3 separate regions of the Homo sapiens genome follow, and all the other regions are reported to be linked to region 2. Evidence: microRNA targets listed by miRTarBase, many of them from high-throughput screens and not tested one by one. Region 2 holds a microRNA gene; each other region holds the end of a gene's coding sequence.

Region 1 (3,648 bases), not on the chromosome of region 2:
TTTGACCAATGACAGCTCCAATCTCCATTATTCACTTACCCCACACCCAAAAAACATCAATACTTTTGAGGCCTCTGTAACATTGTTTCAGTGTAGTCTTACCCAGTATCCAAATGGAGTACCACTGTTTCCTCTTCTGTAAAATGAGGACAATAAAACTACCTACCTCATAAAGCCAGTTTAGAATACTTTTAATGCTATATAAGAATTAGACATTATTTTAACAGTAAATACCACAATCATGTCTTTGTAATAAAGGTGGCTTCTTCATGGAGCAGATCTGAAAAGATGGGTTATATGAGGTTGGTTTGTTTAAACAAGTAAAAATTTGGGGCCCTTGGACAACTATCTGGTATTTATTATAATGATATTTATCAAAATAGGATCCCATAGTTTGTAAAATATAACTTCATTTCTGAAATGTTGTGGTTGTGATTAGAGAAATTTGAAAAGCTGGGCCTGTAAGATAACTTCTGAAAGTATCCAACTTCTCACTTACAGCTTTTACTTAACGGAAAGGGTGGTGTCCAAACAGAGGACCAGGGAAAAAGCAAGAGGTAGAGAACCTCGTTTTGAGTTTTCCCTGAATTGTTCCTTGGAGGTGGCTTTGTCCTACAGATTTTGCTCTCGTGTTCTAACTGCCCTGTGGAGGAAGCAGCTCTTCCTCATCTGAACTGCATTCTAACAACAAATGCACGTCTAACTCCCAGCCGTTCGTAGGCCCTGTTAGGGTGAGCTGTGTCTCAGCACACGCTGTTGTCCATTGTTTTGAGGTGAATGAAGTGGATCAGTTGTTTAAAACGTTTTTAAACTAATTCAAGCCTGGATTCATTTTTAAGTGAAGGTTCTGAAATGTCTCCATCTAAACATAGCATTGCCGTTTTTAGTCTACACCTTTCCGAACTGCTGTCATCTTTTATGCCTTATTTACTGCAATCATGTTAACTTTCTCATTTTTTCAGTAATTGGCTTTGGTAATATCTTGATATTAACATGGAGAAGTTATAGTTACTTTGTTCTCTTTCATTTTCAGGGCCCTAATTCAATCATGATTGTCCTTGTCATGCTGTTGAATATCGGGTTGGCCATTCTTTTTGTTCACTTTCTAACTTGATTGGAATTAGGAAAGGTAAGAATCGCCTTAATTTCTATCTAAAATCATAGTAAATAACATTCTTTTCTCATATGCAAATTTGCTATTTTTTTTAACAATGACGTATTGTCCTTCACTTTAATTTTGGCTATGCCTGAATGTGATTCAACATAGTTACTTAATTGCTATAACTGTTTTGACCCTTCAGTGAAGTCCTGACAACTAGTGGTGTGTTAGCCCACAGTTCTCTGCAGTGGTGCCGTCAGCCCTTTAAATGGCCCACCCCAGGCAGACTCAGACACAGGGAAGGAGGCTTGGAATTAGGATGGGATCGCGAGAGAGATGAAACTTGGAAAATTCAGCCAGAGGACCTGTTCGGTTCCCCTGGGAGTGCTTTGTGGCTTTGGGGTCCTCTGGGAGCTGAAGCACACGGCCATGTTGGAGAGCAAAACTTAATAATAATTCTTTTTTAAAATCTGCTGAAGCAGCCCCATCCGGCGAAGTTCTTGGCATTGGCTACTCCATCTGTCCTAGCAGAGTGTGACTAAACTGGAAATGTATGGAGCTGCATTTTTTTTTTTTTTTTGATGGAAGTCAACAGCTGCCTTACTATTTTACCATCTGACGTTTTTAGTAGGGAGCTGGGGAAACGACTGCCCGAGGAATGCGGTCGGAGGATTGTGTTGCTGTGGACGTGGTTCCAACATTCACTCCTATCTCATTAGAAGAAATAGGTAGCAGCATCACTCACCAGTCTTATGCCATGACCTGCTGCTTTAACATCTCCTGGAATGTTCTGGGAGAGAACGTTTCGTTTGCTTGTGCACGACTCTGTTCATTTTTGCTGTTTATTTAAATCTGACGTATAGTCATCTACCACCTGCGGTCCTGGCCGGACGAAACACACGTGTTGCATCTCAAGGAAAAGAAACAACAAAATGCTAGTGAAAATGTGCTTATTTTGATAGCAATATACCATCTTTTATGTCATTTATTCTTCCTATACTTGTAAAAGGTTATTTATCTTTAAAATTTAGCAATTTGAAGACACTATGCCTTCCTAAGAACTAATTTAATTCTAAATATTTTTAACATTACTGAGGTGAATTATTTATGCACTTAGGAAGTGCTAAATTTTAAAAGCTGAAACACAACAGAATTCTAAGAAATATAGTCCAAACGTTGCATGGATTGCAGTAATCAGTGTTTAAAGGATTCAGTTTCTTTGCTGACGTACTTTACAACCAAATAAAATCTTGTCGGTGGCTGTGTTAATTCCCATGAAAGTTAAGCAAGATGCTATTAATAAACTGCTCTGCTCTTTCTTGTTTTCTTTTTCCAACTTAAATTTCTGTTGAATACATTCAGGTAGAACATAAAGCCTTGTTCAATCACTGCCTCTCAGTTTTCTGCCTTTCCTGTTTTTCAAAGTCCTTTTGTAATTTCATTTCACATTTTAAAGGCTTAGACATTTTTATTTTAAATATGTGTCTTTTACAGTCTTTTGTCATTCTGACATTTCTGGATTTTTGCTGTTTTATAATTTACCCTTTGTTATTCAGAAGCATGCTTACTTATAGAAACTAAATGGTCTTTATAAAAGTAATTACTTAAAAAGAAATCAGGGGAAGAAAGATATCTATCTAATCTATTAAATCTTTATAAAACATTACATTGCAGAGGGGGAGCTACTCCTAAATATTTTCATGATTTGCATGGTTTAATCAGATTTTTTTTTTTTTTTACACCATATTAGCTACCTTTTCAATGGAGAAGAGACAGTTCACACAATTCCCTGGTTAGCACAGATGTGGACTGAGTGCTTTGTCACCTGCAGGGTAGTAACCCAGTGATGTTTCTTACAGAAGCACAATATGTTGAAAATCCTGGGTGTGACCAATATGGAATAAAGAAGAAGGCAGAAAGAGAGCAAATGAAAAATTTCAACTTGTATATTCATTTTTTACATTTTGCTTTGACTTTTAAATTTAGGAAGTCCGTTTTTACCTGAGAACAAATGTTTAAAGTTCCTGCGTCACTCTCAGTACTCTCACTGCCCCTCCCAAACCCTATAGCTCCTTACGCTGGGAAAGCTGGTTTTTTAAAAAAATAATAATAAAATATTTAATCTTATTAAGTGTTCATTTAAAATGCGTAATGCTTTGGAAATAATGGGTAACAGATAGCGAGAGGATATGTTTATAAAGTGAGCATGTTGGTCCCATTTATAAATATATGTATGATTTATAAGCTTTTTTAAAACAAAGCTCAAATTGTTGGTATTTTTCTAAAATGTGCACAGCTGTATTTTACATGAAGGCTCTTTCTAATGGGTTGTTATACTGTACTCAACATTTTGGACAGCACATGAAGTCTGCCAATGTACTTAATAAAACATGACTTTGTTTATTTAAAGTTTCTTGCTGTGAAAAAGAACTCCCTACCTGTGAGTTCCTTTATTTATAATTCTTGAAACCAAAATGTATAATGTACAGTTTTCACAACTGTATCTGCTCTAATAAAAAAAAGTTGGTTATTAATGAAGTTGGAGGTGT
Region 2 (4,577 bases):
CAATTCTCCTGCCTCAGCCTCCTGAGTAGCTGGGACCACAAGTGTGCACCACCATGCCCAGCTAATTTTTGTATTTTTCATAGAGACGGGGTTTCACCATGTTGGCCAGGATGGTCTCCATTGCTTGACCTCGTGATCCACCCACCTCAGCCTCCCAAAGTGCTGGGATTACAGGCATGAGCCACTGTGCCCAGTCTTTTTTTTTTTTTTTTTAACAGGTTCTTGCTTTGTCACCCAGGCTGGAGTGCAATGGCACAAACATGGCTCACTGCAGCCTCAACCTTTGGGTTCAAGCAATCCCCCCGCCTCAGCCTCCTGAGTACCTGGAACTACAGACTACAGGTTCATGCCACCACGCCCAGCTAATTTTCTTTCTTTTCTTTTTCTTTTCTTTTTTTTTTTTTTTTGAGACAGAGCCTTGCTCTGTTGCCCAGGCTGGAGTGTAATGGTGTGATCTCAGCTCACTGCAACCTCTGCCTCCTGGGTTCAAGCCATTCTCCTGCCTCAGCCTCCCAGGTAGCTGGGACTACAGGCATGCGCCACCATGCCTGGCTAATTTTTTTTGTATTTTTAGTAGATGAGGTTTCACCATGCTGGCCAGGCTGGTCTTGAACTCCTGACCTCAAATGATTCGCCCGCCTCGGCCTCCCAAAGTGCTGGGATTACAGACGTTGAGCCAAGGCGCCCGGCCCCACCTAATTTTTTTTTTGTAGAGACAGCATCTTGCTATGTTGCCAAGGCTGGTCCCCAACTTCTGGCCTCAAGCGATCCTCCTGCCTCAGCCTCCCAAGTATGTAGGACTACAGGTGCACACCACCTCACCCACTAATTTTTTTTCTTTTTTTTTTTTTGAGATGGAGTTCCACTCTTGTTGCTGAGGCTGGAATGCAATGGTGCGATCTCAGCTCACTGCAACCTCCGCCTCCCAGGTTTAGGGGATTCTCCTGCCTGAGCCTCCCAAGTAGCTGGGATTACAGGCGCCCACCACCATGCCTGGCTAATTTTGTATTTTTAGTAGAAACAGGGTTTCACCATGTTAGTCAGGCTGGTCTCGAACTCCTGACCTCAGGTGATCCACCCACCTTGGCCTCCCAAAGTGCTGGGATTACAAGCGTAAGCCACAGCACCCAGCCATTTTCTTAAAAATTATTTTTTGTAGAGATGAGGTCTCATTATGTTATCCAGGCTGATTTCCACCTTCTGGGCTCAAGCAATTCACCTGGCAAAGCCTCCCAAAGTGCTGGGATTGCAGGCGTGAGCCACTGCACCCACCCTGTTATCTTTATTACTGTCTTTTTCTTTTTTTTTTGAGATGGAGTATTGCTCTGTCGCCCAGGCTGGAGTGCAGTGGCGCAATCTAGGCTCACTGCAAGCTCTGCCTCCTAGGTTGAAGTGATTCTCCTGCCTCAGCCTCCCGAGTAGCTGGGACCACAGGCGCCCGCCACCACACCCGGCTAATTTTTCATATTTTTAGTAAAGACAGGGTTTCACCGTGTTAGCCAGGATGGTCTCAATCTCCTGACCTCGTGATCTGCCCACCTCAGCCTCCCAAAGTGCTGGGATTACAGGCGTGAGTCACCACGCCCGGCCCTCCCCACCTCCCCCCCCCTTTTTTTTTTTTTTTTTTTTTGAGATAGCGTTTCAATCTTGTTTCCCAGACTGGAGTGCAATAGAACAATCTTGGCTCACTGCAACCTCCGTCTCCTTGGCTCAAGCGAGTCTCCTGCCTCAGCCTCCCAAGTTGCCGGGATTACAGGCACACGCCACCACACCCAGCTAATTTTGTATTTTCAGTAGAGATGGGGTTTCACCTTGTTGGTCAGGCTGGTCCTGAACTCCTGACCTCAGGTGATCTGCCCGCCTCAGCCTCTCAAAGTGCTGAGATTACAAGGCCGCCTCTCCCCAGCTGCTTCTCTCAAAGACAAGATGCACAAGCCAGAGGAAATGTTTCGTTTTATTTTTGCTCATAACCTCCCAAAAAAATCAGTACCCCGCCATCCCTCACCCAGACACAGCCCCTCTCCAACACCTTCACGAAACACTGATTTTTTTTCTTAGAGCTAAAATGAACACCCAGTCACCAACTACAGCCCTGCCCTGCCCCTCCTCCCACTGGCCTGCTCATCTTCCCGCACTGCAAACCTGGCCGCCTTTAGCCTCCCTCCCTTAGCGTAGTGTCCCAAGGTCACCTAGCCTGCTTTTTGCCTGTAGGATATGGGTCCCCTTCTCAAAGCCCGCCCTGACTTACTTCCTCATTTGCATAGTCCTTCAGCTCTATCCTGTCGCCACTCCACCCACCCCAGACAACCACCTGTAAGAAACCAGGTTTGAAATTCAAGAGACCAGGTTTCCAAGCTCCCAGCTGCTTCCCTGTGGGCCTCGGTGCCTCGGCTGTTATGTGACGGGCATAGACATTGACTAAGGCCAAACATTTCATGATTTGGACGAGAAAGGAGGGAAGGAGATCCAGAAATACGCAAGAGAGGTGATAAGCAGAGACAGAGGATAAAAGGATAAGAGTAGAGAGGAGTTGGGTGGTTTGGTGGGGAAGAAGGGTTGATTTTTTTTTTTTAATAGAGACAGGGTCTTACTATGTTGCCCAGGCTGGTATTGACCTCCTGGCCTCAAACGATCCTCCTGCCTTGGCCTCCCAAAGTGCTGGGATTACAAGCATAAGCCACTGCACCCGGCCGAGAGGGGTTTGGAATGAAGGTAGAGGCAGGGGGATGAAGGCGCCAGAGCTGAAGACCAGCCCCCAGAAGCCACACCCCTGCCCTTCTAGCAGCTACGGGTCCTCTGGCTCCGGGCCTTGTAAACCTCGATGAGCAGGTCCTTGACGTACTGGATCTCGCGCTCCACGGACTCTGCCCGTTCCTTCAGCTCGCGATTCCGTGCCTCCAGCCCCTGGCACTCGCCCTCCAGGGCCTCACCCTCTGCCCGCTTCCGCTGGCGGTACCTCAGAGCCGCCGACTTGTTCTGGTCTCTCTTCTTTTGCTTGCGGTCCCCTCGGGTGGTGGCAGGATGTGGGTAGGGGGCCAGGCGAGAAGGTTGAGGTGGAGAAGGAGGAGGGGGCTGCTGTGGCGGGGGCAGAGGCGGCATCCCCACTTCCTCCTGCCCGGCCTCGTTGCGGCAGTAGATGGCCAGCAAGTCCAGAGTATCCAAGACAGGGGGCTGGGGGAGGTCAAAGGAGGGGAGGGACAGGGGGAGGGAGGGGGCTGGTGGTAGTGGTGGTGGTGGTAGTGGCGGCGGGGAGGGTGGTGGGAGGGGCGGGGCATCTAGGAAGAAGTCTTCCATCTGTTCCAGCTCCTTCTTGAGGAGGGAGGCCATAGCTTCCAGGTCAGGTGGGGTTGGGGAAGGTTGGGGGAGGGTGCCGGGGGGTAAGGGAGGCTCCAGAGGGAGGAGAGCTGTGAAATCAACTCGCTCAGTCATCCAGTCAGAGAAGCCATCACCTGGGATTAAAGTGGGGAGGGACACAAAATTCCCTGAGTTGCTGGTCTTCTGCGTAGTTGGGTGCTGACTCACGTCTCATTCAGGTGCATCTGTCCCATTCATTCAGTAAAACAACTAACCACTGAATCATCAAACCAGTCAATAAACCAACAAACCAGTGAAGAAACCAATAAACCAGTCAACGAACCAACCAACAATCAACCATCTAACCACCCAGTCAACCAACCAACCAACCAACCAACCAATGAACTAGTCGACCAATCAATCAGGGAATCGGTCAACCAACCAAATAAATCAGTCAACCAACCAATCAACCCATTAATCAACCAATGAACCAGTTAACCAAAACCCAACAAATTAGCCAATGAAAGAATCAGTCTTAACCCATAAGAGGGTCCAGGAGAAAAAAAAAATTAAAAAAGAAAAAAAGAACCAGCCAACCAACCAATGACTCAAGCAACAGTCAACCAAGCATTTCTTCAACCATTCCAACATCTCCTTTACCGAGTACTCTGTATCTGTGGTGTCTCTATTCTCTCTTTTTAAAAGGCAAACTAGATCACATTACACACACAGATACACACGCACATATGCCTTGTTTCATCTTTACTCATTAATTATTGAAAACCCACTATGTGCCAAGCATTTGGGATACAGTAATGAATGAAATGATTCCTGCCTCCTGAGGGCTTCTGCATATACAGTTCCCTCCAACTAAAATGCTCTTCCCTTGGGTGTTTTCCTCATTCCTTCCCTACTTTTTTTTTATTTTAAGGGATAGGGTTTCACTCTGTTGCCCAGGCTGCAGTGCAGTGGCATCATCTTGGCTCACTGCAGCCTAGACCTCCCAGGCTCAAGCGATCCTCCCACCTCAGCCTCCCAAGTAGCTGTGACTACAAGCGTGAGCCACCATGCCTGGCTAATTTTTTTTTTCCTATAGATATGAGGTCTCGCTATGTTGCCCACGTCCTGAACTCCTGGACTAAAGCAATTCTCCCCGCTTGGCCTCCCAAAGTGCTGGGATTACAGGCCATCATGCCTGGCTTCCTTCCCATCATTTATGCCTCAGTCAACATGTTACCTACTTGGAGAAGGTTTTCTGGCTACCCATTCTATATTAGGTCCCC
Region 3 (3,648 bases), not on the chromosome of region 2:
AGGGCTGGGAGGATCTGAGGCAGCCCTGGGAACGGGAGCAGCCGGAGCCCTTCAGGCTGCCCTCCGGGACCTCCATTGCGACTCCTCTGAGCCGTTCTCTTTTCTCTGCCAACTATAATCCTCTGCAGTCACTTCTTTTTTTTTGAAACAAAGTCTTGCCCTGTTGCCCAGGCTGGAGTGCAGTGGTGGGATCTCAGCTCACTGCAACCTCTGCCTCCCAGATTCAAGCAATTCTCCTGCCTCAGTCTCCCAAGTAGTTGGAATTACAGGTGCCCACCACCATGCCCGGCTAATTTTTGTATTTTTAGTAGAGATGGGGTTTCACCATGTTGGCCAGGCTGTCTCGAACTCCTGACCTCAGGTGACCCACCCACTTCAGCCTCCCAAAGTGCTGGGATTATAGGCATGAGCCACCATGCCAGGCCTGTATTCATGTCTTTCCCCTGCCTCATAGCTTCTGCTCATTGCTAGTTTCTTCCAATGCCACGTGACGGCCCCTCCAGCCTTTCTCTTAACTCAGTGCCTTCCAGCTCAACTTCCTTTTGTTAACAGCCTCATCCTCTTGCTATTTCCTGGTTCAAATTCTTTCCCAGAGAAATGGTCTGATTTTCCCAGCTCATCTCTTTGCCAAAACCAACCAGAGATCCCCGACCAGCCTTGTTCTTGTCACCTCCCATTTCCTCCATTGGTGAGGGAGGGATCCCCTGCTCTAAATAGGACAAGATGGCCAAAACAAGACATTTGACACTGTGCAGGTGAGACTGGCAGCAGTTTACTAGTCACAAATACAGTCTACTGGGGAAAGATATCATAAGCCACACAGGGCCACATGGGGTCACCCTCAGGAGCAGAGTGAACCAGCCAGGGCTGTGGGAGGCAGGCCTTGTAGTAATAAAAGGATGAGATGCCCCGGATTCCTGTAGGAGGATGTGATTGGCTTGTTTGAATAGTTTCTCAGGCTGGCAGAGAAGTGAAACCCATTAAGTAGAAAACTGGGTGGCATGCAGCTGGTCCAGATGATAGGAAATTAGCCAGGTGGGGACCGAGGGCAAGGATATATCTGGTGAGAGGCAGGGAACTCAGGGTTAGGTCTTTGGGGCCCTGTGAGGCATAAAATGTCACAGCAGCACGTGGTATTTCAGGTCTTACAATACAAGCCTGTGCCCTCAGCTGTGACCCATTTGCACCCAGAACAACACACTGCTGGTTACAGTTATTTAAGGAAGCATCTTTTCCTGAGGACCTTAATGAAGACCTGTGCTCACTCCACCCTCCTCTCCTCTCTGTGGTGGCTGCTGCCTGGATTCCAGCTTCAGCCACTGGACTTGGGATTTGGAACTGATGCCTGTGGAACTGGGTCTCTGTGAAGAGTGGGGAACCTGCTGAGACTTGTTCTTGGGAATTGAGCTATAGACTAGAAGATTGTGCAGTAAACAAGAAGAAAGATCACCAAGATCGTGACATTGGAGACCTTGCTCTACTTTAATAAAAACTAGAGATAAGTACTGGTCACATTTTGTGGCATTTCCAGGACTGGAACTTCCCCAGTCCTTGTTATTTTTGACTCCCCAGATGTTTCCTGAGGATACCCTAGAACTTCATGTCCACCAGAGGAGACTGCCTTTCCCACATATTCACCTGGACAACCAGAAATGAAAAAGTGCACTTGGAGTGAGTCCTTGACCCAGGCAGCATTTTATTCTGAGGAAGCTGGAAGGTGAATTCATGAAGGCACTGAAGGCTGCTTCCCATGCACAAGACACAGGAAGATAGGAAATGCAGAAGGAGGAGGAGGTGCCGGAGAGGTGAGGACAGGGGCTGGATGGACGCTGGGTGGAAGGCAGGGCTCGGCACTCCAGTGTACTAAGGGAGTGGAAGGAGAAGGGAGGCTGGGTGCCAGCCGAGCTCTGAAGGAGATACAAGTCCGTGTCAGCCACTGACTTGAACCAGAGAAGAACGGGTTCAGGCTTTAGATGATGTGGATGAAGAAACCACTGGGGACATACCATGAGCAGGATTTCCAAGAACAGAGCTATTTGCACTGCAAACACAGCCAGCTGCTAGCTGCCAGCACAGCTAAGCAGAGACATGGAAATTCTAGGGGGTTTGGCCAAGAAAAGCCCTGGATGACAATATCAGGAGAATTGCTTGGTTGCTCTGGAGTAACTTTGATGTGATGAAGCTGAGGTTTCTCTGAAAGAGTGGAAAACCCCAGGGTGTTATGCCGGATTACGGGTCTTGATCCTCCTTAGCAGGGCAATTGGAACTTCTAAATCCTCTCTACCCACCCCTCCCACTTTAACCTGAATTCTCCTTTCCATTCCAGCTGCCTCCAAGACGTCAGAGAATTTCCAGCCAAGACAGACGGACTCCAGAATGCCACTGTGGGACAATTTTGAAGCAAGAAAAATTAACGTGCAAAGTCATCCTGGAGTCTGGGGAAGAAAGAGGCATTTCCTCATGTTTAACAAGCGTTGGAGCTCAAAGAGTGAGCTTGGGAGCCTGTCCTGTCACGGTTCTGATGGGACATAGGGTCGCTTACAAATGAAAAGAAACGTTTTGTCACATGGGGCATCATTCCAGGCCTGAAGTGAGGGAGCCTTTATATTGCCACAGTGTTCATTGTTCCCAGCATTGTTGGGCTCACCTGGAATCCAGAACCTACCAAGAGCGGGGAAAAAGATGGATTTACAAAGTGGAAAATCAAAAAGAACTTATTTCCAGTGAAGAAATGAGTTAACTCAACCCAAGCTTTTGTCCTAGGGAATGGCATAGCAAATGTCTGCACCCAAGCCTCAGAGGAAGGGGACTGGTGAGACTTCGACCTCTAAGCTTTCACATGCCCCAAGTCCAGGCCAAACCAACCCACCACTTTCAAGTCCCTACACAAACCCACACTGTGAAGACCTAGACTCATGACAAGATCCCTGAAGCTGGCCAGGTAGAAGGCCTTGTTGCCAAACCCCAGAGGGCGTGGAGGGCTCAGGTCCACAGCCAGTTGGTGACAGGGTTGTGCTCGATCTTGGTTGCAATGTTCCTGTCACTCTAAGACAGGGAAGAATCAGAAACCCTGTCTCATGGGGAACATCGCCCCCACTCCCTTCATGCCCTGGCCATGGCCGGGGAAAGTCAGGCTGGCACGGAGGGCTCCAGGGGCTTACCTCACACTTTGGACCTTGTTGAATGGCGTGTCATCCACCCAGGACCAGTCCCCTTCCATCCCTGCTTTAGTCAGGCCAATCCAGTAGATGAGTCCCCCCGCTGTTTTATACAGAAACTCCTGTAGGAAAGACAGGATAAGCAGAGGTGCGGCCACACTTGGAGCTTGATCATCTGTCTCTGGGTGTTCTTCACCTGCGCTCAGTGACAGCCCTGACCCACAGATGCGCTGCACAAACTGGCCTCTCAAGCTTCTTCCTGCCCTTGCCCAGAGCCCAGATTTCATCTTCCAGATTATGATGTGTCCCTGCTCTGCAGCTAACAAGCTCAGGACTCAAGCCTTTCTGCCACTCAGGAAGCAGGTGCTGAAGCACAGGAAGGCCTCAGCTGAACTCCAGAGCACGGACCGCAAGAGAATGGTTCATATGATAATACCTGAATTAAATGAGCCCTGAATCCACATACGGCACTGTGCTGAGTCGTCCATAT

The links. The annotated mature microRNA hsa-miR-4751 reads AGAGGACCCGUAGCUGCUAGAAGG and lies in region 2 at 2,775-2,798, opposite strand. An mRNA with a match to its seed (bases 2 to 7 or 8) in the 3' UTR can be bound and repressed. Matches are read on the target gene's strand: a 7mer-m8 pairs with bases 2 to 8, a 7mer-A1 pairs with bases 2 to 7 and ends in A, and an 8mer does both.
Region 1: miRTarBase lists JPH1 as a target of hsa-miR-4751. Seed matches in the 3' UTR shown: 7mer-m8 at 1,501-1,507.
Region 3: miRTarBase lists CD207 as a target of hsa-miR-4751. Seed matches in the 3' UTR shown: 7mer-A1 at 1,807-1,813.

What each region holds. Positions count from the first base shown.
Region 1 is chr8:74,234,689-74,238,336 of GRCh38, reverse strand. JPH1 (junctophilin 1) reads left to right here. Exons shown (of 6, transcript NM_020647.4): 5 at 1,034-1,129; 6 at 1,302-3,637. The coding sequence ends at 1,114. Among named protein-coding and RNA genes, the nearest start is that of JPH1, 85 kb to the left of the region's middle.
Region 2 is chr19:49,931,294-49,935,870 of GRCh38, reverse strand. MIR4751 (microRNA 4751) reads right to left here and starts at 2,807; the gene lies at 2,734-2,807. ATF5 (activating transcription factor 5) reads right to left here. Exons shown (of 3, transcript NM_001193646.2): 3 at 1,936-3,449. The coding sequence ends at 2,779.
Region 3 is chr2:70,828,540-70,832,187 of GRCh38, forward strand. It overlaps CD207 (CD207 molecule), which reads right to left. Exons shown (of 6, transcript NM_015717.5): 5 at 3,162-3,280; 6 at 1,672-2,661. The coding sequence ends at 2,511. Among named protein-coding and RNA genes, the nearest start is that of CD207, 5.5 kb to the right of the region's middle. RefSeq lists an enhancer at 1,974-3,173.